Regions from separate parts of the Homo sapiens genome. Here region 1 is linked to region 2. Evidence: fine-mapped expression QTL. A gene starts in region 2. The other region holds a variant in brackets. All regions are shown on one strand. Distances are between the middles of the regions.

Region 1 (16,279 bases), 89 kb after region 2:
GCCATGAGTCAGCTGAGCCTGAGTGCAAAGATGGAGAGAAGGCCGACTGGAGTCACGACACAGTCTTAATGTTACATTTGTAAAGAATATCACCACTCAATTTGTGGTTTGTGTTTTTAATCCTTATGTCTTTTTGGCAGCTCAGAAGGACCAGCTCCAGGTAAACAATACCCAGTTGACCTGTAAATCTTGCCAGTTATATCACTGCATTAATCATAGCACATTGCGAACACATAATATCTCGACTTTGATGATTTTAGGTTGCATCCCTGGGCTAGGGATTCCTGTTAATCTGTCCGAGGCTTGGGCTGCCACACCTGCTTTGCATTTTGTGAAACTTCTTCTACTTCAGGTTACTTATTGTGCCCGTAGAGCCTTAGGCATGATAATTTTTGCTATCGTTTCCTTGGTCACACTAATAACTTCTGTTGTGATGTCCTCTGTAACTTTGCATAGTTCTGTTCAAACGGCTCAGTACGTAGAGAATTGGACACGTACAGCCAACCAAGCGAGGCTACTTCAGAATAAAATTAACACTGAGTTACAAACTGAAGTGGCAATGTTGAAATCCATGGTTCTGTGGTTAGGGGAACAAGTATAAAGCTTGCAGTTGCAGCGGCAATTGCGCTGTCATTTTAATCACACTCGTATTTGTGTAACCAACTTAGAATATAACAAAAGTGAGTATCCGTGGGACCTTGTGAAAGCCCATTTGCAAGGAGCTTTCACATCCAACATCACCTTTGATATTAGTGAATTACAAAACAAAATTCTTGATTTAAATAGGCACACTCAAGAATTTCAGCCTTCTTTAGAAGACTGGACTGAATTCCAGGAAGGCCTGGAGAGCCTCAACCCTTGGACCTATCTAAAGTACCACAGTAACATCTTATATGTAGTTCTTGGAGTAATGTTGTTTTGTCTCTGTCTTCTGTTTATAGTCTGTAAAATCGGATGGACCGCCAATCGGAGAATGAGAGCTGCCCAGCCTGGTCTTACATTCTTTCAATTAATTCATAAACAGGGGGATATGCAGGGAGCCGAAGGCCCATGGGACGTGACCAACTCAGCATTCCACTGGAGGCTATATGATCAAACAGCAAACTGTTTATCATGAATACAGGATGTGAGCAAACTCACGACTGTGCCTGCCGCCAGAAGGTTTGCTGAGGGCAATCGCTTCCTGACGCCAAGCTCTTTGAAGTTATCTACTGGAACATCTAGAGAATGCAGTCTTGCAAGCCTACTCTGGACCAACCAACTGACCTCTTCTTCCACCCCCCTTCTCACTATCGCTTTTCTCTAATAAATACAGAGGGCCGTGTAAAGCTCAGGGCCTTGTCCACTAGAGGCAAGGTGCCCCCGGACCCCTTCTTCCAAATATACTCTTTTGTCTCTTGTCTTTTATTCCTGCATTCACCCCCCTTTGTTCAGTCCACCAGGGATCATGGCAGGTTACATAGTGGCGCCCCGAACAGCCACAGAATCGGGTGCTCGATAGATCCTCATATATAACTATAATTTGAGCCCCAATGTAAAGTCCATAAATTTTTGTCAATTTGAGCATTTTTGCTGTTGTTGAAGTTAAGTTAGTACCTATGTTGTAAAGGCACAAAACCAAATCAGTGCCTTTTTATCCTTTTGTTACATAATTTTTTTGGTATAAAAATTAATATATGAATTTTGAATTCCCAATCAAATCAAATTGTAAAACTTTGTTTTGATGCGGTTATATATTAAATGTACATAATTCACCTATTTGTCCTATGTTTACATTAAAATATTATATACATATATACATATGATGTATTTAATTTCCTTTTTATCACCCTCCCATTAGAAGTTTGTTCATAAATCAGTAAGTATTCCAGGGCTAGGATTACGTTTCCTAGATCTGGATTCTGCCCAGTACTTAAATTTAAAGTTCCTCTTTTTTTTTTCTTGTACTCGTGACTGTGGTGTAGAACTGGAAACTGTGTCAAGGGTGACTGAGCCCTGAGCCTCGTATGAGAAAATTAAGCTTGTATTTAGACTGGATGCCGAGGCAACAGACCCTTATAAGCATTCACTGCAGTGAAGAAGGGTGATTAATGTTGGTTAGGCAGCTGTCAGTCTTGGCCAGAATTATGCCTTCAGGTACTCAAGATCCCTTTACACTCTTCTTCCAAATAGAAGAAGTAGAGCCATCCTTCCCAAGGATGAGATCCCCAACGTTTTATGTTGAAGTTTCTTTGTGATAAGTGTCCCATAACTTAAAAGAATACTTAGCTTCAAAGCCCCAATATACCACGATGCAATGAGAATTGGGAATCCACAATGGAAACTCCTAATGAGGAAAAGAAAAAAGGGAGATGTAGCGGACACTGTTCTACTGCAATTAACCAAGGCCAGTGGGAAGGAAAGGTAAGAATCCCCTGTCCTGGCAGTAGAGGGAGTCTATTAATTAGCCCATCTGGAAGCCCTGGCTCTCCTATCTAGAGGTCTCACGCTGTCCTTCGTGGCTCCTGACTTTCTGTCTTGCATTTTTTTCATTGTTCCTCATTTTCTATGGCCACAACTTAGTTGGGCATTAAAGAATATACATTTTTTTTTTTTTTTTGGAAATTGAAAGCATTTATAGGAGTCAAAAGTGTGAATGAAATGGTCAAACTGCTCTGCCTTGGAAATGCACAGAACTCTAGAGAAGACGAGAAGAATGAGTAAAGCAGTGGAGTGAGAGAGGACATTGATAACAGGATTCCTTGGTATTCATGTTGAGTGGTGTCTTTTGCCAGTGCATCAGGAAAGTATGTTACACAATACAAAATTGACAATTTCTGAGTGTTTTTGTGGAGAAAGCAAGGTAAAGGGCTGAGTTATGAGTTTATTTATTTAAATACAAAGTCATTAGGCAGTTGTTAGTGAGAGTACTGTATTGAAGTGGAAACTCAAAATTTAAGGTGTTCATGAAAATGGAAGCCACCTGGGAATTTATAAATATTGCGCACATGAGGATGAGAATTTACTAGACATGACTTGGTTCACGTTATTTTAATTTTAGTTAAATTAATTTAATTTAATAAAATAATTTGTAACAGAGATAATTTTAATTAGACATCAAATGTTTCTCACTTAAATATCTAGGTGACACTATTTATTGATTCATTAATTCAGTATTTATTGAGTGCCTACCACATGTCAGACACTATTTTACACATAGAGGGTGAGGATTCATCTGTAAGCAATACAGACCACAATTCCTGCCCTCAGACAGCTTACATTCTTATTATATGAAAGGAACCATATGAAGTTTGTATACAGTTGTATACAATAAAATAATCTGTAACGATGTAAATGAAAGAATAAAAATAATCATGTTAATATTGGCAGATATTACATTTGAAAACATTTAACATCCATTCATAATTTAAGCAATAGAAGAAGAGAACTCTTAAAAAGTAAGAATAGAAGACACCTTCAACAGTCTGATTAAAAAGAGAAAGATACAAAAAGGTGACAGCAAACATTACACTTAAGGGTAAAGTAATTAAGTTTTCCCTTTAATATATACTATCTCATCCAAGCCTTACAAATCCCCACCACTCTTTCTGTTTTCTTGTAGTTTTTTTCCACTTCCACTTACCCCAGGGTACAGGCTGAGGTCCAGAAATTAGAAATGACACCCACAATAGCCTCATTTTCTATTTCTTACTCTCAAATTGGGGGGCATGGAAGTATTTTTTCCTGATTAAAAACTTCATCCACTCATCCTTGAATGGCTTAATATGACTCAAGGGTAGATAAAGCTGGGACTGGCATGAGGGTAGGATGAGAAAGGGCTAAAAAATATCCCTGACCCCCTCCTCTCATTGCCTGTACCTCTACCTCTGCAGGAGGTGAAGCAGTGTTGGTAGCTCTGTCACTGGTCTGGGCTGAAGAGCTGAGGCAGCCCTCAACAGCCCGTCTGCTGTAGTCATCCATCGTAAGGCATTTTTACGAATTTTTTTTTTTTCAGATTTGGGAACAGGAAGAACTTTTGGGTTGCTAAATGGAGATGTGGTGTCGATAATCACGCTTTTATTAATTCGGTTTTATATAATAAATTTTAATCCTTGAAGGTGCTGTTTCAACTTCTATTGGGCCGTAATAAATTATCTTAACTGGGGGACTAAGGGGCCTCATTTGATCAAGCCAATTTGTAAGTGCCAAAAGCTTACTTTAATTTTAATTTGTTATTAATTGTGTCACAGAATCTATGTCCAACATAGAATATTTTAGAGCAATGACTGTATGACTGGGAAATTTAGGCGACGCTACAGATAAAGTGAGGTCTACTCATTTTTCAAAATTTTAGTTAGCTTCTCAAGATTATGGGAGTAGAGTAAGTAAATTTAATGAGATCCCTATGTATAACTATAATTTGAATCCCACTATGAAGTCCATAAATTTTGTCAATTCGTGCAGCTGGAGTGCAGTAGCACAATCTCGGCTCACTGCAACCTCCACCTCCCAGGTTCAAGCAATTGTCCTGCCTCAGCCTCCTGAGTAGCTGGGATTACAGGCACCCAGCATCACGCCCGGTTAATTTCTGTACTTTTAGTAGAGATGGGGTTTCACCATGTTGGCCAGGCTGATCTCGAACTCTTGACCTCAGGTGATCTGCCCACTTCGGCCTCCTAAAGTGCTGGGATTACGGGCGTGAGCCACCGCGTCCGGCCGCTAATGTTAGAAGTTAAGTTAGAACCTATATTGTAGAGGAACAAAAGCCAATCAGTGTCCTTTTTGTCTTTTTTTACATAAACTTTTACTACAAAAATTAATATATGGATTTTGAATTTCCAGTCAAACCAAATTGTAAAACTGTTTCAATTTGGTTCTATATTATGTATACATAATTTATCTATTATATATTTACATTAAAATATATGCATATATAATGGATTTAATTTCCTTTTGTCACCCCCATATCTAGAAGTTTCTTCATAAATTAATAAATAATCTAGGGCCAGCATTATGTTTGCTAGACCTGGTTTTGGCTCAATACTTAAAGTTAAAAGTTTCTGTCTTTTTTCTTGGACTTGTAACTGCCTAGAGCGTCAGTCTCTCTGTTATTTTTTTCTATTTTCTTTTTTCCCCCATCAGTCTTTTAGCCACTTGAAGCCAAAATTCTTAGTTTCTGTCCTAGTTGATAAGAGTAAAAGGGGAAGGAGGAAAAGGGCCCGGTGCCACTGGACAGTCACCTCTCTCTGGGAAGGACCCATTACAAGACAATGAGTCCCTCTCCTCTCTTTTTTTTCTATTTCACATAAAATCTTTAAAGTGACTTGCATTTCTAGGCATCTAATATTTATATACTTTTTATTTCCTAACCTCACTCTCTGGATGTTTACTGGACAAGATCCCAGTGGTATGGAGTAGCACTCTGCTGTTTTCACTTTACACATTGTTACCAAAAAAGAAAAAAAAATGGTATTGAGAGTTAGTCCAAACTGCACCACTTTGTAAGCCCCCCACCATTTTGCAGACTTTGGTCAAAGTGAAACATTCCATGGGGTTTCGGGCCATGAGAAACATCCTGCCCAACCACCTGACCACAAGGCACACGAACATCCTTATCACACTCTGCCGGGCAAAGGCCCAAGGAACATCACTATCACATTCTGCAGGAACAAGTGCCAAACCGCCTCATCATGGGAACATGTTATCAACATTTTCCCAGGCAACGGGCCATGCTCCACTTCCAGACCTCTCCCACCCAGGCCTGTAATTGCCCCAGCCTGTAAGCAGTGGTGGGCACTGGCACCTCTGCAGGTTTATACTGGACATAAATGCCTGCATTTGCTGTTGAGACACTCTGTCTTTGTGTGTCTTTCTTTAATCTCACTTTCTCTTCAAAACCGAACAATGAGCTCCACTTGCACTGGCCTTGTAGGCAGCCGCTTTTCTTTCCAGGGTGACCCGATCGACCTCTGAGGGGCTGGGAGAACGAGAAGTGATAGCACCAAGGAATGCAGCAACCAAGGAGGCACTGGCCTCAGCAGCACCGGCTCTTGCAAGGTGCCCTGGGGACTCAGGTGCAGTTGCCGTGTCACAGGTTAGAGTTAGGCGACTGGACCCTTTCACCCAGCTCCCCTTCACTGACACACTGAAGCCAGCATTCTGTCATCCTCTTCAACTTCACTATGGTGGAATCGCTGCTCCCCAGGAGCCTGGTGGCCCATGGCCCTATCATCAGCAAGATGGAGGTAGAGCTGAGGATCGAGCCATGGGCTACCGGGTGGCCAGCTCAGCATCCTGGCCAGCTCTCTCTGGCTGGAGGCCAGTACTTTGCTACTTAGAGCCAATACAGGCCGGACCACTACCGAGGCCCTAGGTCACCAGAGAAGCATGTATGGCTCAAGGGGCAACATGCCCTCCAGTAGTGGCCCCCTGTCAGGGGCCTGATCCCAGAAAGGGTTTCTGATGTCCCACAGGGAAACACCCTCATTACAATAGGATCTGCCCTCCTGCAGCTGCTGGGGAGCCTGGAGCCTCAAAGAGCCGTCCACGGTCACTGGAATTTCTGGAGAATCTCCAAGTTAACTGCTGAGGACAGCAGTACTAAGCTGCACGAAGCAGCAAAATGGAGCACCAGCAAGCAGTAGTGCCGTCTGGGCCAGACCGACTGGGCTGTCTGATGCAGGAAGTGCGTGAGTCATCCACACACACAGACATTGGGATTGTGTCCAAGACACAGCCAAAAGCCTGCCTGCTATGCCAGTAGTATTAAATGAAGCTCTTCAAGTTTCTCTATCAACTCAGCTGCTAGTGACCATCCTCAGCAGCCACCAGAGGTCAGGACAAAAGAACATCAAGAGGGGATCCAACTGCCCAGGTCGCTTTCGGGCAGCCTCACATCGTGGGTTGGATTGTGGGTGCGGCTTCAATGAGGCGACGACAGTGTTAAAGTTCGAGAGGTTTTAGTATTCACAGACCCCGGGAGGTACATGAGACATCTGGAGGCCACACTCAGAGGAGCAAGAGGACAGGCAGAAAGAGAGCTGACGGGGGTGGCAACTGGCAGTGGGAGTGGGGTGTGGCGCACTTCAAGTTCAGGGGCAAATGTCCGAATGGTTCCCTTTTTTCCTCTGTCACCCAGCTGGACTGCAGCGGTGTGATCTCGGCTCACTGCAACCTTCGCCTCCTGGGTTCAAGTAATTCTTCTGCCTCAGCCTCCCCAGTAGCTGGGCACCACCACCACGCCCGGCTAATTTTTTGTATTTTTAGTAGAGATGGGGTTTCACCATGTTGGCCAGGCTGTCTCGAACTCCTCGGCCTCCCAAAGTGCTGGGATTACAGGTGTGAGCCACCACGCCCAGCCAAGCTACAGCAATTTTCTATGATCATGAAAATCTGAGAATCTTCCCACCCTGGGCTATTTAGCCTCTTTAAGAATGATAGCAATTATGTAGCACTTGTTTACATCTAATACTCATAATAACACTGTGAGGCAGCCATCATCATCCCTTTTTTACTAGGGAGAATCCATGGCCCAGGGACTCCTGTAGTTTTTTCAGCATCATACCTAGCCAGTCAGTGGAGACAGGAAGATTTGTAAACCAGACCGAACAGAGCCACTACCTTTGCACGCTCAAGTGCTGCCATTGAAAGGCGTTCTTCCAAAATTACCAGGATAGGGTCCTGCCCTCGTATAATAAATTTTTTCTCCTATTTCTTTTACTCATTTCCTTCTTTTTTCCTATCATTATCAGTCACTTTCACTGAGGTCTTCCCAGGGACATTGTTTAGTGTAGCTCAGGGTTTCTCAGCTTTGACACCAATGGCATTTTGGGCTGGTTAATTCTTTGTTGTGGTGGACTGTTCTGTACACAGTAGGATGTTTAGCGGCACCCCTGGCCGCTATCCAGAGATGCCAGTAGCAACTCCCCATTCAGGAGTGACAACCAAAAGACATTGTCAAAGATCCCCTGGGAGGCAAAATACCTCCCACCCCCTCCCCCTGCCAGTTGGGTGTCACTGTAACAGTGTAAAGAGTACCAGGCTTTGGAGTCAGTTAGATCTCTACTCTGATCTTATCTCTGACACCTCGATGGTGTAAATTCTTGATCAGTGACATCTCTTTGAGCCCCCATTTTCCCCTCTGCAGAACTGAAATGGTTTTTTGATAAAGACTGATTTTCAGGGGAGGATTAAATAGAATAGACATGGACTGGAGGCTGAGGTGGGGGAATCGCTTGAACCCAGGAGGCAGAGGTTGCAGTGAGCTGAGATTGCACCACTACACTCCAGCTTGGCAACAGAGCGAGACTCCGTCTCAAAAAAAAAAAAAAAAAAAAAAAGAATAGACATGGAAATCATCTAGGATAGGTCGGTAAATCTGTAACAAATTAGAACTCTTAGCCCTCACCAGGCTGTGTGTTGTGTTGTGGGGTACAATCCCGAACCCTGCACTATGAAGCTCAGGGTCAGGACAAGAACGATGCTTATAGCAATAGTAGCTTCTACTTATGAACATTATCCACACACCAAGAGCTTCTCCCTTAACCCTCACAACTCCTCTCATAGGCTCTGTGGATGGGATGTGTTAATATGTGTAAGCACTCAACACACCCTGAGACACGGTGAATATTGATTAATGTTAGTTTTAATTTGTATAACCATTGTACAGACGAGAAAGTTAAGACTTAGATTGAGGTGGGATGTGGTGAGGGATAAAAGATCATTTTTTATACCAAAAAAATTGAAAATTGTATTTCTACTAGATCATTCTATCACATAATCACGCCCCCTCTCTTTCAAGAGAAACCTCCTTTGAAGCATATTTCTTTCCAGCTTCAACCCTATCTAGCCAAATGACCTCTCTGTAAGGTCTGTCTGTAAGACAGAATTTCCAGCCAAACATCCA[AAG/G]AGAATGTCTCTAATTCTTCCTTTTCCTTCTTCGCCTCAGCTGTTCTCCTTAATCCACTCCACATTGACTTCTGTCCTTAGCACTCCACCTAATGCATTTTCCCAAGGATGCTTATGACCCCCAGGCTGCCAAATCCAGTGAGTCCTTCTCAGTTTTTAAGACCTGATATCCCAATGACACAGGACCCATTGGATCACTTTCTCCCTTTTCAAACACATTTTTCCTATGCCATGAGATATATCCAAGAGATATGTGCACACAATACACTCTTGGTCGTCTCTACAGCTCGATTCTCTTCCTCTTTTTAGTCCAATTTACGGTGTTTTCTATTCTAAATTTGACTCTAAATGTTGGGGTATCTCACATTCTATAAATGATATCATCCAGTCTCTGGGATTAAACCATTATGCTGTCTTTTCATCTAAATTATCAGCCGTGGCCTCTCCCTGGCACTCAAGTCTGATAAAACCTCTCCCCGTGGGAGTCCCATAGACTCCAAACCTCACATGGTTTTACCAAACTGTTGATGTTCTCTGCCTCCCAGACCTGCCACTCTTCCAATATTCTGTATCTATTTGGAGATTAAATATTCAGTTGTTAAAGCTCCAGATCTAGAACTCACCTTTCATTTCTCTTTTCCTCACCACCCAACGCCATCCACGTCTTACTCATTCTATCTACAGAACATGCTGAATGCACAGCCAGAGCCATTGCCATCTCCACGACCGGTGTCCATGGCCCTGTCAGGCTTGGATATTTGCACAAGCCTTGCAAATAGCTTTTTCCTGGTCCTGCTGCCCCCTCCCCTAAGATCCATTCTCCAGACAGAAACCAAATGAGCTTTAAAAAGGTCCAATAAGATGGTGATGTTATTCGCAATACCTTCCGATGGCTTCCAGACTTCTAAGTTACCCTTATCTTAGGTTCCCTTATCCTAGGTTCCCTTATCCACTGCCACATGTGCCCTGTGCATCCCTCAGACCTCATCTCTGCACTCTCATCAGACACACTGGGCTCCACCCACTGGGCTCTAATTCCTTGAACTTGCAGCTCTTTGTCATCTCAGGGCTTCTGCTTTCTCTATTCCTTCTGCCTACCGTGCTCTTCGTCTTGAGCTTCCTGCACCTGGCTCATCCTGAATATTCATATTTCAGGTCAAATATTATTTCAGAGAGATCCCACCTCACCCACTCTGCAAAGCAGAATGCTCAGGTACAGCCTATCTCACCAGATACTTTTCTCCTTTATTTGTTTGTTCATTTATCTTCTCTCTTAAATACCCTCCACACTAGTACGTAAGCTCCACAGGACTATCAAGATCCTTCAATGCTACATCTCTACAATGCTACATGTCCAGTAGAAATATAATGTGTTAACTTTAGCTACATATGGGACTCAAAATTTTTTTGTAGCCACTGTTTTTAAAAAAGTAAAACACCTTTGGGGAAATTATTTTAGTAATAAATTTTATTTAATTACATATATGATAAAGAATTGGCCAGTCACATTGGCTCACGCCTGTAATCCCAGCACTTTGGGAGGCCGAGGTGGGCAGATCACGAGGTCAGGAGTTGAAGACCAGCCTGGCCAACATATTGAAACCCCGTCTCTACTAAAAATACAAAAAATTAGCCAGGCGTGGTGGCAGGTGCCTGTAATCCCAGCTACTCAGGAGGCTGAGGCAGGAGAATCGCTTGAACCTGGGAGGCAGAGGTTGCAGTGGGCTGAGATTGTGCCACTGCACTCCAGCCTGGGTGACAGCGCAAGACTCCATCAAAAAAAAAAAAAAAAAAAAAAAAAAAAAGAATGTTACTGGAACATGTAACCAAATTAAACACTGTTAATGAAATAGTTAACATTGTTTTCATACTAACGAAGTGGATTCTTCACTGGACTACGCTACTCCAGAGTTAGAAGGGCTCTGTCATATAGCAGGCATTTCAACAATAACTTTAAAATTTTCAGACCCCAACTTACCACCAGCTTAGATCCTTTTCCTGTGCCCAGTTCCTGGATTCCTGTGGAGCAACTCAGGCTCTAAGTACTTGTAAAAAGATGAAGTTATATGTTTGGTTTTAAGATCTTAATTGGCTTTGGTTATAAAGATGGAATCAGACAGCCTGTCATGCTATAAAACAAAATGAGTGTTTTGATAGTTAGAGCCAAGGAAGTTGGTTTTACAGGGATAGGAGGGCTAAAGAAAGCAGAAACAGAGAACAAAAACCTGATTGGTCATCTGGATGTTGCATTTTTTTTGTGCAGCAGGAATAGAGAGACAGCAATAAGGAACAACTGATTGATTGAAGTCAAGTTACCACAGATTGCTTTTTTTTTTTTTTTGTAAAGATGAAAGCAGACAGAACTTCATGTTCATGCCCACTGAAACTGGCCTGTTTTAGGAATTTGTCCATTTTCTCTCTCTCCTGATTTCTCAAAAGTTCAGATACATTAGTTTTGGTTTGGTGATGTGGAGTTTTAGTATGACTGACTCCATTTGGTTTGCTTTGTCGAACCTAGTACAATAGGTCAGTCCAAACCACTTACTTGCTGTTTTTATAGAACAGGCTTCAGCAGAGACTTAGTTGAAGGACACGGGGACAATGGAGCTGGAATCAATCCAGTGACACAAACTCAGGGTTTCTTACCATTCCCAGAAGACACCTTGGAGATGTTCTCAGACGATTTATCTTGGAAACTTATGTGTCTGAATGTTCCTTCACCTCTAGCCTTCTGTGGGAGACTGGAGTTCATCCTTCCAAATATCAAAGGCCAAGAAATCTGAGAGTCCAGGCCCTTTCTTTTCAGAGATTCAGGAAAATGAAAGAAACAATTACCAAGGTGAGAAGAATGAGAGGAAAAACAATAAAAAAACAAAGATGCACGGTGAAACAAAAACTCGATTCTCTACTTTCACAATCCTTCTGACCAAATATACTTTTTCTCTACACCAAGAAATTCTCCAATTCTCTGGGGACACCACCTGGGCCACCTGCAATTAAAAATTCGGTTATGATGCTGTCTACCTGGATTCAGCTCAGATCCGAAAAGCTAAAGGGCTCACTCCCACAAACTGTTCTCAGATCAGATCAGACATCTGTTGCAAGTCCCAGGTGGCTACTTGTACTTCTGACTGACAGGCTATAAATTGGGTGTTCCAATGACACCAATAAATTGCTAGAATGGCACACAGAACTCAGGAAAGCACTTTGTTTGCATCTGTTGCTTTATATAAGGAATATACCTCAGGAATAGTCCATTGGAAAGAGGCATATGGCAGGTATATGGCAGGGAAGGGGTTGGGTGGTGCATGGAGCTTCCATGCTCTCTTCAGGCAGCCACTCTCCCAGCACTCCTGAGTGTTCACCAATGTGGAAGCTCATCAAATCTCATTGTTCAAGAGTTTTTATGGAACTCAATCTCCAGTCCCTGCCTCCCCTTCCTGGAGATCAGTAGGTGGGGCTGACAGCTCCAACCCTCTAATCCCTTGGTCTTTCTGGTGACCAGTCCCATCCTAAGGCCATGATCTCCTTAGCATAAACTCAGCTATGATCAAAAGGGGCTGTTTATGAATAACAAATAATACTCCTATCACTCAGGGAATTCCAAGGGTTTTAAGAGCCCTGTGCCAGAAATCTGTGACAAAATCAAATATGCTTTGAGGTATTTCATACCTCAGAGTTACAAAGAGAAGCAGTAACTAGGAGCATGTAGAGAGGTAAGGAAGGTAAATGAGAGACACTGTACACTCCACACCATTGCCGAGATTAACCCCCTAACCTTCTGCCCCTAGGGAGATGCTCTATGGACTACTGATCTAAGGAGATGGGCTCTTTCTGAGTTTTTAAACACCATCAGAATGTTGTTCTCAAGCCCAAGGAATAGAACCATGAAAAACAGTGGAGAGCCACAAAACAAGAGTCAACTATTTTCTATTTTCTCTCTGATTCACTGGATGTTTTCAGTGATAAGGTAGAGTAAACCAATGAAGCACATAAGCCATGGAGAAATTTATTATTAAAAAAAGTTTTGGAAGGGGATAGATCTGGAGTTTGAACAAAAATTGAGTTTAATGTCACCCTTCCACTCCATCATCATATTGGTTTTCTTCTAGGGCTTTCTTGAAAGTGACCACAGAATGGCTGCCACTGTTCTGGACATTGCATCAACAGGCCCTCCCGAGCCAGAATCATGAGACAGGCAGAAAATGTGACTCATTCACATGCCTCTTCCATTTTATTACAGAGGGAAACCTTGTCCAGAGTCTCTTCAGGACCTCTCCTTGTCTTTCATTGCCAGAGCATGCCATCTCTAGACCAATCAATGGCCAAGAAATAACAAAAATACCGATACATAAAAATAAAGGTCAGGGACAGTGGCTCACGCCTGTAATGCCAGAATTTGGGGAGGCCAAGACAGGAAGATTGCTTGAGCTCAGGAGTTCAAGACCAGCCTGGGCAACATAGTGAGACCCCATCTCTAAAACCAAAAAAATATTAGCTGGGTGTGGTGGTGTGGACCTGTAGTTCCAGCTACTCAGGAGGTGAAGTGGGAGGACTGCTTTGTCAGGGAAGTTGAGGCTGCAGTGAGCCATGATGATGCCACTGCCCTCGAGCCTGGGCAATGAGCAATACCTTACCTCAAAAAAAAAAAAAAAAAAAAAAAAGACAAGTTGCTCATATTGGCTTAGGCCAATCATGATTGCTTTCCTAGGACAGTGGCACATTGCTACCTGCCACCTGATTAAAATGGAATTTACTTATCAGTATAATAAAGGGTGGTGGGTATTGCATGAGGCCTCTGAAGAGGTGCTCCCTTGCTGGCTCCTGCAGACATAGAGCTTAAACAGACATGTGCCTTACCCTGGAGATGCCGACTACCCAGGTAAAGAGGTGACAGCGTCACTCTACTGTGACTAAGCATAGTCTTATGCACCCTTTGTGCACAATGGTGTCCTCTGCCATTTCCCTAAGCAGTCACAGTAGAGTGGGGGTATATAGTGATAGACAGATGCCTGGTTCATTATGAGATTTCCCAAAAGGAACAACTAACTGAGACTGACAGGGTCCAGGGTCACTTCCAAGTGCAATGCAGATAACATCCGGGATGAATCTTAAAGACTCAGATAAAGAAGCAAAAAAAAATACATTCCAGGCAGAGGAGAGTGAAAGCACGCAGGAAAGGGTCAAAAAATAGCAGGTTACCTGCGGTTATTGGAGCATAGATGGTGAGGCAGACAGCAATAAACACTGAGTGTGTAGCAAGTGGCAGAAGCCATCTGTTGGAGGGTCCTGAATGCTACAAGAAGGACTTGGAATTTCTTCATAATAACATGAATAACCATTTAAGCAGGACAGTGACTTGTCAGGTGTGTGCTTCTGAAAAATATTGTTCTGTAGTCCTGCAAAGGGATGCCTTTGAGAATGTTTCTAATTGGAGACAGAGATATTAGAATGGAGAATGTTGCCAGAAATCAAGGTAAGGTTCTTGAAGAGCTACCCAGGGCAGGAATAGTGTGATCAAGAAGAGGCGTAGCTTAGAGACAGATTGTCCAGGCTGAGTAGACCAGCCTTGGAGACTGGATGGCTGTGGGGAATGGGGAAGAATGAGTGCTCTTTATAAATTCCACATTCCTAAAGTTACTATTGCTGCATCTGCTACAGTCTGAATGTTTGTTTCTCCCCTCCCCAGATTTGTATGGGAAATCCTAACCCCCTAGGTTATGGTATTAAAAGGCGGGACCATAGGGAGGAGATTAGAGCGTGATGGTTGCACCCTCATAAATAGGATTAGTGCCTTTGTAAGAAAGCCTTGAGGGAGCTTGTCTGTCTTCCACCATGTGAGGACATATGGAAGGCGCTGTCTATGAGTAATGGGCCCTCATCAGACATGGAATCTGTTGGCATCCTAACCTTGGTTTTTCTTTTTTTATTCTTTCCTTTTTTTTTTTGAGAGAAAGTCTTGCTTTGTCACCCAGGCTGGAGTGCAGCAGTGCAATCTCGTCTCACTGCAACCTCCACCTCCTGAGTTCAAGGGATTCTCGTGCCTCAGCCTCTCAAGCAGCTGGGATTACAGGAATGTGCCACCATGCCTGGCTAATTTTTTTTTTTTTTTCTGTTAAAGATGGGATTTTGCCATGTTGCCCAGGCTGTTCTCAAACTCCTGGCCTCAAGCGATCCCAAACTGCTGAGATTATGGTGGCATGAGCCACTGTGCCCAGCCTTAATGTTGGTTTTTCTATCCTCCAGTACTGTGAGTAATAAATTTATGTGGATCATAACTTACTCTAATAGATTTTGTTATAGCAGGTCAAATGGGCTAAAAGACTAATTTGTACCAAGAAGTAGAGGTATTATAATTAGAAATACCTAAAAATGTGGAAATGGCTTTGGAACTGGGTAATGTGAGAGGCTGGAAGAGTTTGTGAGTGCTAGAAAAAACTCTACATTTCCATGAATGTAACGTTGAGGGTGATTCTGCTACAGGCTCAGAAGAAGATTGCAATAATGATCAGAGTATTGGTAGAAATGTAGAAGTAGGTCATTCTGATGAGATCTCAGATGAAAATGAGAAATATTATTGGAAACTGTAGGAAAGGACAGCCTCATTATAAAGTGGCAAAGAACTTGGCTGAATTGTGTCTGTGTCCTTGTGCTTTGTGGAAGGTAGAACTTCTGAGTGATGGAATAAGATGTTTGGTGGAAGTTACATCTAAGCAAAGCATTGAGGGTGTGGCATGGCTTCTCTTGATTGCTTATAGTAAAATGCAGGAAAAGAGTTACATAAAAAATGGCAATTATAGGCCAGGCACGGTGGCTCACTCCTGTAATCCCAGCACTTTGGGAGACCGAGGCAGGTGGATCATGAGGTCAGGAGATCGAGACCAGCCTGGCCAACATAGTGAAACTCTGTCTCTACTAAAAATACAAAAATGAGCCGGGTGTGGTGGTGAACACCTGTAATCCCAGCTACTCAGAGGCTGAGGCAAGAGAATTGCTTGAACCTGGGAGGTAGAGTTTGCAGTGGGCCGAGATCGCGCCACTGCGCACCCCAGCCTGGGTGATAGAGTAAGACTCCATCTCAAAAAAAAAAAAAAAAAAAAGGCAATTATAATCAAAAAGGAAGTAGAACCTAAAGATTTGGAAAATTCTCAGCCTGTAAAAAGTGCAAAAGTATGTTCAGGGGAGAACACCAATGGTGTGGGTAAGTGAACATTTGATACGGAGATTAGCATGGATAGAAGCCAGATAGTATTCATCAAGACAATGGAAGAATGACTCTGAAGGCATCTCACAGATCTTCACATCTTCCCTGCCCATCACAGGCACAGAATGCAAACAATTTCAAGGTTTTGGCGGCAAACAATTTCAAGATTGTATTCCCCATATTCCAGTA
Region 2 (16,279 bases):
ATATAATAATATCTTCCATGTCTAAATTCCCATTCTACTTTGCATCCCAATCACACACAAGCCACTCCCATAGATACCACATCAGTGTGATTTGGTGGTGCTTGAGGTTCCTTTGCTACTCTGGAGTCAAGGGCCTGGTTTTCATTCTTCTTCATGTAAGATTGAAATACATCTTGGTCATTCATGCATTTCTTCATCGAAGGACAGATTAGCCAGGCTGAAGAGAGGTCATACTTTTCCATCTATTAAGCATTTCTTAAAGGCTAGATCTTTATTAAAGGAGTTTTCATGACACTGTCCATACCAAGGCCTCTTGCTCTGTGAGTCTGGTTTTGTTAGAATTGAGTTGGGGGCCTGGGCGTGTCTTTACATGAAGCTCTCTCGGGGGCTGTTTTTATGAGTTGATGAACTGTAGCCATAATACACAGTAGAAGAGACTGAATTTAGTGAGAAACAGAAATGTCTTTCTTGAGCAAAGATTTTGTTAGCAAAAATAGGGCAAATTTTTATGTAATATTTACAAATTAAACTTTTGAACGTGTGAAATGTTTTTGTTACAATTCAGGGCTATACAAAGTTAAAGTGAATAGTAAATACAGAAAGAATTGTAGGACTTTAGAAGAAATGTAACCTACAGTGGTCTAGACAAGATGGAGAAAGACAGACTGATAAAATATCTTATGCAAGAGACATAGCTAGGTATTGAATTAAGATGAAGACATATGACAAGAAGTTGTAGAACTGGAAATGCAAGGCCATGTGGGGACTGTCAGAAGATTAGCCTGAAGGCCGGGTGCGGTGGCTCATGCCTGTAATCCCAGCACTTTGGGAGGCCGAGTTGGGCAGATCACCTGAGGTCAGGAGTTTGAGACCAGTCTGGCCAATGTGGTGAAACCCTGTCTCTACATAAAATACAAAAAATTAGCCAGGCGTGGTGGCACGTGCCTGTCATCCCAGCTGCTCGGGAGACTGAGGCAGGAGAATTGCTTGAACCTGGGAGGCGGAGGTTGAAGTGAGCCAAGATCGTGCCACTGTACTCCAGCCTGGGTGACAGAGCAAGACTCCATCTCAAAAAAAAAGAAAAAAAAAAGATTAGCTTGAAACTGGTCACATGGAGGCCACAGTTAGAAGATATTTGCTGGGAAATGGTGAAGTGGGAACTTAAAGTGGATGCGTCATGGTAATGGTAAAACTTTTATTGTTCAGCTCCTGCTGTGAATTTTCTGTGCCAGTAATTCAGGGTAGTGGTGGAGGTAAAGTTTTGTATTTTTCTAGCTCTAGGTAGAGCTTACCTTTCACCTGGTGGCAGTACTATAGCAATCATACTGTATAGCTGATGTTCTAAGAAAAACTAAAAGTAAAGCTGCCTCAAGTCTTGATTCAGAAGTAGGGAGGTGGTCCTTGAGGGCTCCATTCACCGATGCCAACAGAGACATAAGTACAAAATTCAGAGAGTAGAGGCTGTTAGTGGCAAGGTGAGGAATTAGTATATTAGGGACAGCAAAGTGGAAAAAAAATCCAATATGACATCTGTGCAAGTAGGGCATGATGAAGAAGGTGACAGTTTCCATATTTGGTGCAGTGGCAGAGCTGTGTGGAGAGGACCACGTGTTCTGCTTGCATGTTCTGAAAGTCCATAGGGATCACCCTGTTTCTCTTTCTGTTGGAACATATGAGAATATATCATAGCCAGGTAGATACAAGGTGTTAACCAAAAAATTGAGGAGGCAAAGAGAAACTTTATATTCTAACAAAAGATGATTCGCAGATCTGAGTGGTGTGACTTTGAGGAAGTGGAAAAAACACACATCACTGAAGAGGGGAAACTTTTTTTTTTTTGCCTTGCAGGAGGCTTTTTGCCTTCTAGGATTTGCTTTGCATACCTATTCAGTGAGAGATGGGGAGTCTTATGAATATCTTTATGAGAATCAGCAAACATGTGCATAGTGAGCAAACATATATGTAACATATAATCCACTTTCATTTTGGAGTGGAGTTTTAACATTAAAATGAGGTGGAATTTGACTGTATGCTAGCAGGTCTTTTACAGGATATAAGAAAAGTCTGCACAGACTCCGGCAGCTGACCAAAACAGCTGGTGTTTATCAGGAGAAGGATATTGAGATCAGTCTCCTGTCCAATCATAGCTGCAGTTATGGCCTGTGGAATGCTGTTGGGGGTGAGGGGCATCAGTTAGTCAGCATCTGGTGGTCCGGGAGCTGCAATTGTTTCAATATTGCTTGTCCCAAGGCCAGTGTTTGTTTAGCTGCTACAGAAAAAGAAACAAAACAAAACAAAACAAAAAACACTCGTGGCAGTTAGAACATAGTTTATTCTTTAAATGTAGGGGGTGTGTGACTTAACCCTTACCTGTATGTCCTTAGACCTAGTTTATAGTTTGGTATCTTATTGCTACAAAGAGTCTGTTCCATCAGTCTTGTGATCTCTGTTTTAACAAAGGTTAGAGTATTGACTGCAGTTTTCCTGGAAATATGAGATTGGTGCTCTAGGAAAGTTAGCGTGATGATGGTCTACAGAATGGAGAAGGGCATATTTTAGCACCCAACAGTCTAATAGGATTAGGATGAAGTCAAAGGCTGTGTATCCAACATTCTAACTTGCCTTTCTGGGATATTTATTCTACTACCTATGTCTGCTGTTTCCCTACTCAGGATTATTCTTTTTTAAATTAAAAAAAAAGTTTTTGTAGAGACAGTCTCCCTATTGTAGCCCAGGCTGGTCTCAAACTCCTGGGCTCAAGTGATCTTCCCACCTCACCCTCCCAAAGTGCTGGGATTACAGGCATGAGCCACTGTGCCTGGCTGGCAAATTTTTTTTTTTTTTTTGAGATGGAGTCTTGCTCTGTTGGCAGACTGGAGTGCAGTGGAGCGATCTTGGCTTGCTACAACCTCTGTCTCCCAGGTTCAAGCGATTTTCCTGCCTCAACCTCCTGAGTAGCTGGGACTACAGGCACGTGCCACCACGCCCAGCCAATTTTTTTGTATTTTTAGTAGAGATGGGGTTTCACCATGTTGGCCAGGATGGTCTTGATCTCTTGACCTTGTGATCCACCCGCCTTGGCCTCTCAAAGTGCTGGGATTACAGGCATAAGCCACCGCACCCAGCTGGCAAATTTTATCTTATATGTATTTAACTACAATTCTTAAAAGTTTTTTTAACAGATAGGGAACACTTATACTTGGAATTCCTTCCATGTTGGTATTATAGGGGTTCCAGTAAAAAGCCAGCCAACCCCAAGGCATCTTTGAAGCAGTTTTATTCCGTGTGATGATCATGGAAGGATTTATTGTTCTCTCTCTTAGAAATTGAGAAAGCTGATGATCATCTGCAGCAGCCCTTGCAAAACCAAAAAATACTGAAGAGGACGGGACAACGCTATGAACACGGAAGAACTTTGAAATCATATTTAGGTTTAACCAACCAGAGCAGAAGATACAACAGAAAGGAGCCTGCTGAGTTTAATGGAGATGGAGCTTTTCTCCATGATAATCATGAACAAATGCCTACGGAAATTGAATTCCCTGAAAGTAGAAAACCCATCAGCACCAAGTCACAATTCCTTAAACATCAGCAAACACACAACATAGAGAAAGCCCATGAATGCACTGACTGTGGGAAAGCTTTCCTCAAGAAGTCTCAGCTCACTGAGCATAAGAGAATTCATACAGGAAAGAAACCCCACGTGTGTAGCTTGTGTGGGAAAGCCTTCTACAAGAAGTACAGGCTCACTGAACACGAGAGAGCTCACAGAGGAGAGAAACCCCACGGGTGTAGCTTGTGTGGGAAAGCCTTCTACAAGAGGTACAGGCTCACTGAACACGAGAGAGCTCACAAAGGAGAGAAACCATACGGGTGCAGTGAATGTGGGAAAGCCTTCCCCAGGAAATCTGAGCTTACTGAACATCAAAGGATTCACACGGGAATTAAGCCCCATCAATGCAGCGAATGTGGGAGAGCTTTCTCCAGAAAATCACTACTCGTTGTACATCAGCGAACTCATACAGGAGAGAAGCCTCATACATGCAGTGAATGTGGAAAAGGCTTCATTCAGAAGGGCAATCTCAACATACATCAACGAACTCACACTGGAGAGAAACCTTATGGATGCATTGACTGTGGCAAGGCCTTCAGCCAGAAGTCTTGCCTTGTAGCACATCAGAGATATCATACAGGAAAGACTCCCTTTGTATGTCCTGAATGTGGGCAACCCTGTTCACAGAAGTCAGGACTCATTAGACATCAGAAAATTCACTCAGGAGAGAAACCCTATAAATGCAGTGACTGTGGGAAAGCCTTCCTTACAAAGACAATGCTCATTGTACATCACAGAACTCACACGGGAGAGAGACCCTATGGCTGTGATGAGTGTGAGAAAGCTTACTTCTATATGTCTTGCCTTGTTAAACATAAGAGAATACACTCAAGGGAGAAACGGGGGGATTCAGTGAAGGTGGAAAATCCTTCCACAGCAAGTCACAGCTTAAGTCCTAGTGAACATGTGCAGGGGAAAAGCCCTGTTAATATGGTAACTGTGGCAATGGTGGCAGGGCAGTGTGAGTTTGCCCACATCCTGCATTCATGATAAACAGTTTGCTGTTTGATCATATAGCCTCCAGCGGAATGCTGAGTTTGTCATGTCCCATGGGCCTTTGGCTCCCTGCACTAATATGTATAGTAGGGTTTACAAGATATGAAATATATTTTACTTTTTTATATCTTATAAACCTCACTACCCCTCCCACAATATTGTTTTTCATTTACTATCTTGATCATAGAGTTTGGCTGGGGAGGGGGGCAGTTTTAGAGGCTTCCACTTGGTGTTCCTCAGAATGATATCTCTTACTCCGGGGGCCAAGGTAGGGGTTAGCTTTTGTTCTCTTTGTAGTTTAGATTGTATCTCTTGCCTTGTTCAAGTTCACAAATCTTTTTGTGTATACACATATGTACATGAAAATGATGTTCATGCTTTTTATTATTTTACCCTTCATTATTTCATTTTTTATAGTTCTCATAGCTATGTCTTTCAGTTCACTAATCTTTTTTCCACAGTGTTTAATCTGTCATTAATCCCATCCAAAGTATGTTTTCTCTCAGAAATTGTAATTTTTAACCTCTAATAATTTGACATGGGTTTTTCCCTGTTATATCTTTCATATCTTTATTTATCATGGTTTTACTTTTAACCTATTTATGCTTTCATATTTAAAGTGGGTGTTTAGTGGGCAACATACAGTTGGGCCTTCCTTTTTTATCCAGTTAACAATCTCTGTCTTTTTACTGGGGTATTTAGATCATTTACGTTCAATGTATTGATGTTTTTAGGTTTAAATTACTAACTTACTATTTGTTGTTTATTCTATGTCTTCTTTGTTCTCCTTTTCTTCTTTTTCTGCTTTCCCTTAGAGTAGCTGAGTGTGTTTATATTACATATTGTCTCCTTTGTTGGCTTATTAACTGTAAATCCTTGTCATTTGATTCCTTGAGATTTTATAGCATACATCATTGTGAGGGATTGCATATTTATGTCCTCTCCAAATTTACATGTTGAAGTCCTAATCCCTAAGGGATGGCATTAGGAAGTGTGACCTTTGGAAGGTAATTACATCTTGAAAGTGGAACCCTCATGATGAGATTATGTGTCTTATGAGACAACACAGAAGAGAGTTTGTTTTCTCTTTCTCTGCTCTTTGCCATGTGAAGACAGAATGAGATGACCATGCATAAACCAGGAAATGGACTCTCACTGGACACTAGACCTGCCAACACCTTGATTGTGTTTTAGAGTCCAGTTCTAGAGACTCCTCAGCCTCTGGAACGTGAGAAATGAATGTTTGTTAAGGCAGTCAGTCAGTCTATGGTGTATTTTTTCTAGTAGCCTGAACTGACTGAAAGAAAATCATGAACTTATCATTCTAACTTCAAGGACATTATATCACTTACTGTATAATAAAATAATCTTACAGTAGTATATCTCTATTTCCTGTGACCAGATCAGTGTCAGTGAAGAGATTGTCTTCTAGATGCTACTGGAATACATATTTGAGGTATGGGTAATCTTGATTTTACATGATAAATTCATTCTAGCATTCCAAACTCCATTTATCTTTGGGTACTTTATAATATATGAGGAAATTTCTGGCATTTAAACTTCATTTAGTGTAGGCAAATTTTGAGTCCAAGTTTCAGTCAACCAGCCAAGTCAACAGTTAGCACCACTCAATTTAGCTCACACACTGAAATTGCCAGTAGAATGTAATCTCCATGAATGAGAGTCTTTGTGCCTGAATTTCCAACTGTTGTATTCCCAGCACGCACAACAGTGTTTGACACATTAGGCATTTTATAAACATTCGCTGGATAAATGAGTGAATGATCAATCCCTTTAAAGGTTCTCTGAGGCTGGTTATAAAATTATAGGGAGCAGGTTTGGTGCTAGAATTCATCAGTTAATTGATCAGCTGAGTTTCAGTATTGAACAGAATCATCTCCCCTTCAGAGTTTTGATTTCAAGTTGCTCCCACCTTCCTGGATGTAAAGGCTTGTTCTGCCTTTGGCTTTTCCAGGGTGAGAGAGCCCTGTTTTCGTGTTGGTTCCCCACTTTGTCAACTGCTGATCAACTGTGTTCTCCATTCTCCACACCAATTATAACCAAAGCTTTAACACGCGGTTGTTTTATCCATTCTATGACTGACTCCTTCCTCTGAGGCTACATCTGATGTAGATGTAAAGATACTTCTTAGGCAGTTCTCAAAGGCTGCTTTCTCCAGCCAGATGCATCCTCAGGAGTAATAACCCCTCCGATTGTTGCTCAGGTCCCTCCCTCTTGAAATTCCTGTAAGACTGCCGCGCCACATGGTTTCTTTCCATTCTTCTTAGGATCAAAGTGCCTAAATGTCTGTGACCATCTCTACCCATCCTGTAGACAGATCAGGGCAGGCTTGAGCCTTTGAGAAACTAAGCAGTTTATGTAGCGCCCCTGGCTAATGTTGCAAAGCCAAGATCTAGCAGTTCACGTGGACTGGAAAAAGGGTGAAATGGGTCGTTTTCAATTGCTTTTCATCGTCAGAACCTACCTGTCTTAAGGCGCGAAAAGAGGGACTCCGCCTGCTCTACGGCAGTAGGGTTGAAAATGGCTGCTCCCAGCAAGCGTCCCCTGGGCGCAGACATATTGCATCATAAAGGGACGGCTGGTGCCGTATTCCGTGTCTCCGGAAAGACGCAGTATGGCCCTCGCCGGCCGCCATCCCCGAAACTTGCGAGTGTCGCGTCTGCAGTGTGTGGGGTTCGCGGGGCGGCGGGTAGAGGCGAGTGTTTAGAGACTTCGGGTCCCTGACTCGCCTCCAGCAGTGGAGACAGGTCATCGGTCTGGTCTGCGTGGGCTTCTGGGAATGTTTCAGGGGCAGGGAGAGCGCGCTTTTTTTTTTCTGTTGTTCGCTAGCGCGTGAGGTCCGTGTTGCGGGGAGCTCTCGGGGAGTCCTCGCTCGGAGTTCGTTTCGCAGTCGTGTTGGAGTTCCCAGAGTCTGGGAGCCCATGGTCTCCGCATTGGAACCAGTGCTTGGGAGGTCTTCGTTGCACAGTAGCGCTAGGGCGTCGTGGTGGGGAAGCGAATCGTGTCAGTGTTGGAGACTGCTCTGGGCAGTTCGTGTTCATTGCTTATCACATGCGTACTTAAAAAGGGGTCTGCTGGTCCCCTTGCTTCCCTGCTGCTGTATATTCTGTAGAAAATGGGTTTTCAGGTTCATTGCGACCCAAGTAATAACATCCCCATCATTTTAAATACTCCTCCAGAAAATAACTCTGGTTTAGTGTATTTCATGTTTAATGTTGGGATCAGGTGTCTAGGTATTGGTATAATTTTATTCGTCTTTAATAACATCTTGTCAACTTCGTATTCCCATATTACATGCTCTTTGAGAGTTTTTTAAATTGCTGCAGTTTCATCAAGTGGTTGCTTTAATTTGGGTAGAATTGATGTAGATCTAGATACAACACTTTCAGGAACATGTGATGGATTTCTATTAACCCAATATTTTTATTTGTTTGACTATCTGTAGTGTTTTTCCATACGTATCTTGGACATTTCTGGTTATGCTTATTTCTACATAGTTAATACTTTTTGTTGTAAATCGTGACTTTTTTTTTGCATAAGACCCCTCCCCCTTTCCTTTTTTGTTCCTAATTTTACTTAGTTGACAAGAACAGAAGTTAAAAATATATATGTTTATTCTGTCACTTCATTGTACTCATGTCATTACATATAACTTATAAATTGACGTCTTTTTTCTAGTTGAGCATTTTTGTCATCTGCAAATAATTTTAGCCAGGTGGCAAGTGTATGGACTGTGGAGTAAGAAGTACCTGCCTCTGCCTCTGACTTGGGTACGTTAATCTCTGAGTCAGTTTCCTTATTTGTGGAAAAAAGCTGTCATAGTTTCTTTTTCATGGAATCATTATGAAGATTAAGTGAGCAAATGTTCTTTAAGTATGTTCAAAGTGTAGTACTAGGTACGTAGTATGGTCTGAATAAATAATTACTGTGATTTATCAAGTTTTTATTTCTCTTTCCTAAGGGCTTTTGACCATTACAATTATTTTCATTTATTTTTTTCTCTTTAAAATTTTCTTTGATTTGTGTTGCTCTATTTCCCAATTTCATGTATTCCTGAGGGAATAAACCATACTTGTCAATAATGGTTTGTTCTTTTAATATGAGACTGGATTTTATTTGCTAAAATTTTATTTAATATTTTTGCATCAAAAAATGAAAAGATATCTTGGATTAGCTTCGGAATAATCCATAATCCATTGCTGGAGAGGGACTGAATGGTGGTATAGATAAAACAAAATTAGATGTGAGTTCGTCATTCTTGAAGTCACATGATGAATATGTGGAATTTGAGTATACTGTTCTTTTGCTTGAAATTTTTCATAGTAGAAAGTTAAAAAATTTTTTTGCCTATACATTTATAAGAGAAATTGGTCTCTTAAGTTTTTTTCAAGTGATTATACTTGAAAATCACCAGGTTAAAAAAATAGAATAATGTAGCATCCCAGAAGCCCTCATCTTCTCTCTCCTCTCCAAAGGTAATTATTATCTTAAAAACATCATAGATGTGCTTGGTTGTCATCTTTATATAAATGAAATCCTAAGGTACACATTCTTTTGTGGCTGGCTTCTTTTGCTTAATATTTTTGTTGTGAAAATCATCTAAGTTGCTGCATATAGCAGTAGCTCGTTTCTTTTTCATTACTGTGTAGTATTCCATTGATGATTATACCCCATATTATCCATTCCACTATCAAGAGACATTGTTATGGCTTATGGGAGTTATGAGTATTGTTGATATGAACGTTTTTCTACATGTCTTTTGGTGCATAAAAGTTCTATTGAGGGCTGGGCATGAGAGCTCACGCCTGTAATCCCAGCACTTTGGGAGGCTGAGGCGGATAGATCACCTGAGATCAGGAGTTCGAGACATCTGGCCAACATGATGAAACCCCATCCCTACTAAATACAAAAATTAGCAGGGCGTGGTAGCGGGTGTCTGTAATCCCAGCTACTCAGGAGGATGAGACAGGAGAATCACTTGAACCCAGGAGACAGAAGTTGCAGTGAGCTGGGATCATGCCATTGCACTCCAGCCTAGGCAACAAGAATGAAACTCCATCTCAAAAAAAAGTCAATAGAGCATATACTTAGTGTGTTAAGTATAGAGGAATGGAGTATGCTAGACACAAGGAGAAACCGCAAATGCCCAATCATAATGGGAAATTCTTAACATACTTCTCTCAGTAACTGAGAGAACAGGCAGACAAAAAGCTAAAAGGGTATAGATTAACCATTGCTGGCAAACTTTCTGTAAAGGTGCAGACAGATGACAAATATTTTAGTCTCTGCCGGCTAAATGGTCTTGTCTGCATCTACTAGGTTCTGCAATTATAGAATGAAAGTAGCTGTACAGAATGTGTAAACAAATGGGTGTGGCTGTGTTCTGATAAAACATTATTTACAAAAACATTCAGCTAACCCACAATAGTCCCAACCCCTGAAAGGTTAGAATGACATACCTAATTAACAAACTTGACCAATATAAAACACTGCACTCAATAATTTTCCTCAGATGCACATAGGACATTTATAAAAAGTCACCGTATGGTTGGCCATCAGGCAAGTCTAAATACATTTCAAATGATTAAAACCATATAGAATATTTTCTCTAACTATAGTGGAATTAAGCTATAAATCAATATCAAAATGATTTATTCACCATAGAATAGTCATGTGACTTTTTGGAACTATCAATTCAGAACATGCTGTTTTCTTGTCAGAATGATTGTTAATTATGCCATACGCTTCTAAATAATCTGAGTTCAAAAAATCACAGTGGAAATATTTTCAATTGCATTTTAATAAGAATTCTACATGTAAACCCTTGTTGAATTTAACCTAAGCAGTCAGTGGAGGAAATTTATAACCTTGAATGCAAGTATTAGAAAAGAAGGAAGGATGAAAATCAATGGAAAAGCACCTATCTCTATAATTCTTTTTTTTTTTATTCTATTGATTTGTGTTTGGAAATGCTGGTTTTATATAATTGTTAGAGAGGCTTCACTTTTTCTGTGATTGATGAATGTTACATAATATTGGAGTCATCTCTGTACTGTAAAGATTAGATAGAACTCATCAGGCTCTGATGACTCTAACTTTTTTTCATGGAAATTGAGTATAATATTTACCCATAACTTAGCTTCAATGGTTATCAATTCATATTCATCTGTCATATCAGTCATATTTATCTGTGCCTCCACTTTTGTTTTAGTCTGGAGACTTTCATAGCAAATCCAAGGCTTCATGCCTTGAAACTTGTACGTATCCCAGTATGAATCTCTAACCAGTAAGGTCATTAAAAAAATTTATAACCACTAGACCATTTCCTTTTTGTTTTTTCTTTTACAGACAGGATCTTGCTATGTTGCCCAGGCTGGTCTTGAACTCCTGGGCTCAAGCAGTCCTTCTGCCTCGGCTTCCCAAAGTGCTAGGATTACGGGTGTGAGCCACTTCACCCATCCTAGACCATTTTCAGTGTATCCAAGTTAATAATAATTTCTTTCCTTATCTTTTTGGGTGAGTGGACTCTCACTCTGTCACCGAGGCCGGACTGCAGTGGCGTTATCTTGGCTCACTGCAATTCCCACTTCCCAGGTTGAAGCAGTTCTCCTGCCTCAGCCTCCCGAGTAGCTGGGCTTACAGGCATCTGCCACCACACCAGGCTAATTTTTGTATTTTTTTGTAGAGATGGGGTTTCTTCCTGTTGGCCAGGCTGGTCTTGAACTCTTGACCTCAAGTGATCTGCCCATGTCGGCCTCCCAAAGTACTGGGGTTACAGGTGTGAGCCACTGTGCCCAGCCTATTTCTTTAGTTCATTGAATAGTTAGTCCACATTCAGTTTTTTTCTGATCATCTCATCATTGTCTTTTAACATTGGATTGTTTGAATCATGATCCAAATGATGTGGGTGCATTCGATTTGCTTGTTGTATCTCTTAGATCTCTTTAATTCTATAACAGCTCCCCCTTTTTTTTTCTTTGTTTTTTTTGCCCTCATGCCTCTTCATATGTTGCAGTAGGAAGTACACAGCACCATCCATGAAGGATTCTTACCTAAAAAAATTGAACATGGGACTAATCAAACCTCTAAGTTGAACTACTCACTTAATTAAAAGGAAAAACTGGGAGTTGGGTAGGTAGAGAACAACAAGTTAAACTATACCATGAGGCTGGGAGCAGTCGCTCATGCCTGTAATCCTAGCACTTTGGGAGGCTGAGGTGGGAGGATTGCTTGAGGCCAAGAGTTCAAGACCAACCTGGCCAACATAGCGAGACCTTGTCTCTATAAAAAAAAAAAATTTGGCCAGGCACAGTAGCTCACACCTGTAATCCCAGCACTTTGGGAGGCTGAGGCAGGTGGATCACAAGGTCAGGAGTTCAAGACCAGCCTGGCAAAGATGGTGAAGCCTCGTCTTTACTACAAATACAAAAATTAGCCGGGCGTGGTGGTGGGCACCTGTAATCCCAACTACTCAGGAGGCTGAGGCAGAGAATTGCTTGAACCCGGGAGGTGGAGGTTGCAGTGAGCTGAGATCGCGCTACTGCACTCTAGCCTGGCGACAGATTGAGACTCCTTCTCAAAAAAAAAAAAAAAAAAATTTTTTTTAAAAAGCCCACACAAAATGATACCCTGATACAGCAGTCAGCCATATCCAAAGGTAGGACATCATATGGGAGAAATCACCTGTTTCCTTCCTCCCTGCTTCATTCCTCCCAAAAGCAGATAAGGCTGAGGGCTTGTAATGGTTTGGAAGCATCCTAACTTTTATTTGAAGTGGAAGCCTTTTTTTTGCCTTTTGTTTTTTTTGAGACAGGATCTTGCTGTGTTGCCCAGGTTGGGGTGCAGTGATGCGGTCATAAACTCAATTCAGCCTGGAACTCCTGGGCTCAAGCGATCCTCCTGCCTCACCGTCCTAAGTACCTGGGACTACATGCATGCACCACCATGCCTGGCAAATTTTTAATTTTTTTTTGTAGAGACAAGGTCTTGGTATGTTGCCCAGGCTGGTTTTGAACTCCTGGCCTCAAGGAATTCTCCTGCCTTCACCTCCAGAATTGCTGCAATTACAGGCCTGAGCCAACACAGCAGACCCTAGTTTTTTTTTTTTTTTTATTGGATACTGTTGGCTGCCAATCTGACAACCAAGCCCCCTTTCTTAAGAAAATTCCTCTTTAATTTAGGTAGTGTCCTCTGGACATTTGACCTGAACCTCAGTTCAGTAGGAAATCCAGATTATCCTTACCAGTCAGGGTGGTATCATTGCCCTTCTCGGTTACATTGCCATGTTCTCCGCGTGAGTATTTGGTGCAATTCTGATGTATTATGTATGAGGGAAAGCCTGCCATGAGCTTCTGGGAATGGTTGGATCCTGGATTTTTCAACCCTGGAGATCTCAGCTCCAACCCATTCATGCGTAATGGCCTTTTCTACCTCTTAGCTATCCATATGGATTTCTGCATTTGGGTTGGGTACCACTGTTTTTGGACTGGTCCTGTAGGGAGGCTAGACTGAAGGGCTGGGGCTGGGATGAAGCGGTCTCAGGATTGAAGGTAGAGGAGGTTTGCATCTTGACCAGTGCGTTTACCAGTGGGTCAGAAAATGGCTTGGAGATCAGCTCTCTGGGTGTAAAGGATACAGGCTTGCTAGAGAGTCTTGAGAATGACTTGCTGGGATGACAGCAAAATTCAAGTTGTTCTCACAGTGTGGGTGTTCTCAGAGTGTGAGTTTCTAGAGTGGTTCTTGGGGAGACTGATCTCTGAACTGCTGCTTCTGGGGCAAAGATGGGACCGCCTTTGCTTTCCTGTCTGTGTGGAAGGAGCAGGCTGAGCATCCACACTGAATATTGCATTAGGAGATCACAGGCCCTTGTTTGTGTAGCTGTGACTATGTGGCCACCCCGCAGTGTAAAGTGCTGGGAAGTAAAGTTCTAAAAGTGGGTAGGAAAGAGAACAAATTTGCACTGTAAGGCTGTTGTAGGAGGGAAGTATCACAAGGGAGAGACCCCAGATGTAGATTCAAGTTCCCATGCTACTAATGAGGAAGAATGTTAACCTGCACAACACACGTTGTCTCAGCAAGCCTCAGCTTACTCATGTTTAGGATGGAAATAATAATGAGTACCTTATAAAGTAGTATCGAGGGTTTAGTAAGACAGTGCTTATGGTTTGTATGATTAGTAAGACAGTGCAATAAACCAAAAATTTAGGAGCATGTGGCTGCCGGTGGTGATTTTAAGTCAGTTTCTTGAGCCACCACTTCTTTTATGTTTTTATTCTTAGAGACAGAGTCTTGCCATGTGTCCAGGCTGGTCTTGAACTCTGGAGCTCAGGTGAGATCCACCCATCTCAGCCTCTACAATAGCTGGAACTCTAGGGCACATGCCACCATGTCTGGCTTTACCACTTCCTTCATTGTCTTACCTAAAACTGATATATGTGAGAACTTGGCAGTGGACAAGACCATAGGTGGTTTTTGTTTACTTTCTCCTGTTTCACATCCACTCTATTTCTGACATAACCAAAAAAAAAGGCATTCCTCTTGCACATTCCATATCTTCCTCTGGATCACTGCCCCATGATGTAATGGCTTCCAGGGTGTTAAGGAGACAGATGAAATATTGGAACCTGATGTTAATGTGAGTCCAGATGGCAATTGGAGACTTGTGATCCTAGGAGCATGTCTTCTTATCATTGAATTTGGTCTTGAATCCACAGGTTCTGGCCTATAGGAACAAGACATTTTCAGTAATGGAAGAAGGAGCTTCCAGGCTGGGGAAGATCATCATTTCCAGTGGTAGCTTGACCTGAGATGATACCTGACCACCACTTCTGGGAAGGCCCAGAATAGACAGAAGAGAGAGAACATACTAGAGTTGCTAGCCCCTAAGAGTTGAACGAAATGGGCAAGGCCCAGGTGAGGTTTGTTTTACCTATTTTGTCGTTTGTTTCCCAATGGGTCTGTGGAAGCTTGTAAAAGACAGTCTGGTTAAATGAGATAGTGTATGCTGATAAAAATCAGGATCTGTGGGAAAATAAGTTTAAGTTGGAATCTTAAAATCCTGGCAAATTAAGAAACAAGATATATGGATCAGGGGGTTTGTGAAAGTTCTTAATGTCGGAACATAGCTAAGTGACTGTTAAGACCCTGTGGGTTTTCTCTGCTTTAAACTGTGTCTCCTTTTTTTTGGCAGCTGAAATAACAGGAAACACATGAAAAATGCCACGATTGTAATGTCTGTGAGGAGAGAGCAAGGCAGTTCTTCAGGGGAGGTAAATTTGTCATTGCTGTGAGAGCTTGAGAAACTTCTTTCCTTCAGAGAGCTTTTGTGGTTGACGGTATCCTCAAAGTCAGCCTTGTAATAAAGGCATGGGATGTTTTCTATGGCTTTTTCCTGTTGTTTAGTGGGGTAAGCTAAGGAGTAATGCCAAAGGAAAACTGGATTGGACAAAATTCTTCGAAAATAGCGTGCCTTGAAAATAGAGGCTTCTGGTCATCTGACTTTGCCCAGTGATAAAGCCTGGAGTATCCAGTAGAATGAATGGGCTGCTTGACCTTTGAATGATCCTCCCTGAAGAAGAATTCTCTCATCCAGATTTTTGTTATTGAGACAGCAGGAGACAATTAACAGCTCCATTCTTTGGTAACAGCTTGGAATGCAGATACTGACAATGCTTCTTTCTTACCTTCTTAACTCCAGGTTCAAAAAACAAAGCACCAGTTCGGCTTGTTTTGCTTTTTCTATGTTTAATTACTGAAATGATACATGGCTACATTTGCACGCAAGAGATTCAAGCAAACAGAAGCATTTGTATCAAAAGACAGTATCTCCTTTCACCCTTTTTCTGCCCAAACTTCAACCCAAAGGATACTAAATAAGTGTTCATAGTTTGGGTCTCTATCTAGTTCCTCCCTGTGATTGACATCTGGTAGAATATATTCATATTTATGTACATTTATGTATACATACTTGTGTATACTTATACATATGTAATTATAAATATTATTACTTTTTTTCTCCCCCCAAGTTGGAGTCTTGCTGTGTCGCCCAGAGCTGGAGTGCAGTGGCGCAATCTTGGCTCACTGCAACCTCTGCCTCCTGGGCTCAAGCAATTCTCCTGCCTCAGCCTCCTGAGTAACTGGGATTACAGGTGCGTGCCACCACACCCTGCTAATTTTTGTATTTTTAGTAGAGATGGGGGTTTCACCATGTTGGCCAGGCTGGTCTCGAACTCCTGACCTCATGAGCCCCCTGCCTCAGCCTCCCAAAGTGCTGGGATTACAGGCGTGAGCCACCATGCCCAGCCATATTATTACTTTTTTTTTTTTTTTCCTCTTGAGACGGAGTCTTGCTCTGTCGCCCAGGCTGCAGTGCAGTGGCGCAATCTTGGCTCCCTGCAAGCTCTGCCTCCCGGGTTCATGCCATTCTCCTGCCTTAGCCTCCCAAGTCGCTGGGACTACAGGTGCCCACCACCATGCCCAGCTAATTTTTTGTATTTTTAGTGGAGATGGGGTTTCACTGTGTTAGCCAGGATAGTCTTAATCTCCCGACTTTGTGATCTGCCCACCTCGGCCTCCCAAAGTACTGAGATTACAGGTGTGAGCCACCACGCCCAGCCGTATTATTACATTTTTAAAATATGTCTTAGATCA

The links. PIP is the estimated chance that this variant, and not a neighbour inherited with it, causes the effect.
Region 1: its variant is fine-mapped to the expression of ZNF649-AS1 in lung (TOPMed, PIP 0.98).

Annotation. Positions count from the first base shown.
Region 1 is chr19:51,789,917-51,806,195 of GRCh38, reverse strand. FPR3 (formyl peptide receptor 3) reads right to left here and starts at 11,039. Exons shown (of 2, transcript NM_002030.5): 1 at 10,865-11,039. It also overlaps a transcript of ZNF577 not described here. The variant AAG/G (reference allele first, on the strand shown) is at 8,885.
Region 2 is chr19:51,878,942-51,895,220 of GRCh38, reverse strand. ZNF649-AS1 (ZNF649 antisense RNA 1) reads right to left here and starts at 7,196. Exons shown (of 3, transcript NR_110733.1): 1 at 7,095-7,196. ZNF577 (zinc finger protein 577) reads left to right here and starts at 7,270. Exons shown (of 6, transcript NM_001370449.1): 1 at 7,270-8,400; 2 at 14,344-14,542; 3 at 14,820-14,898. The coding sequence starts at 14,839. It overlaps ZNF649 (zinc finger protein 649), which reads left to right. Exons shown (of 5, transcript NM_023074.4): 5 at 3,324-5,986. The coding sequence ends at 4,603. RefSeq lists enhancers at 7,146-7,997, 14,997-15,517.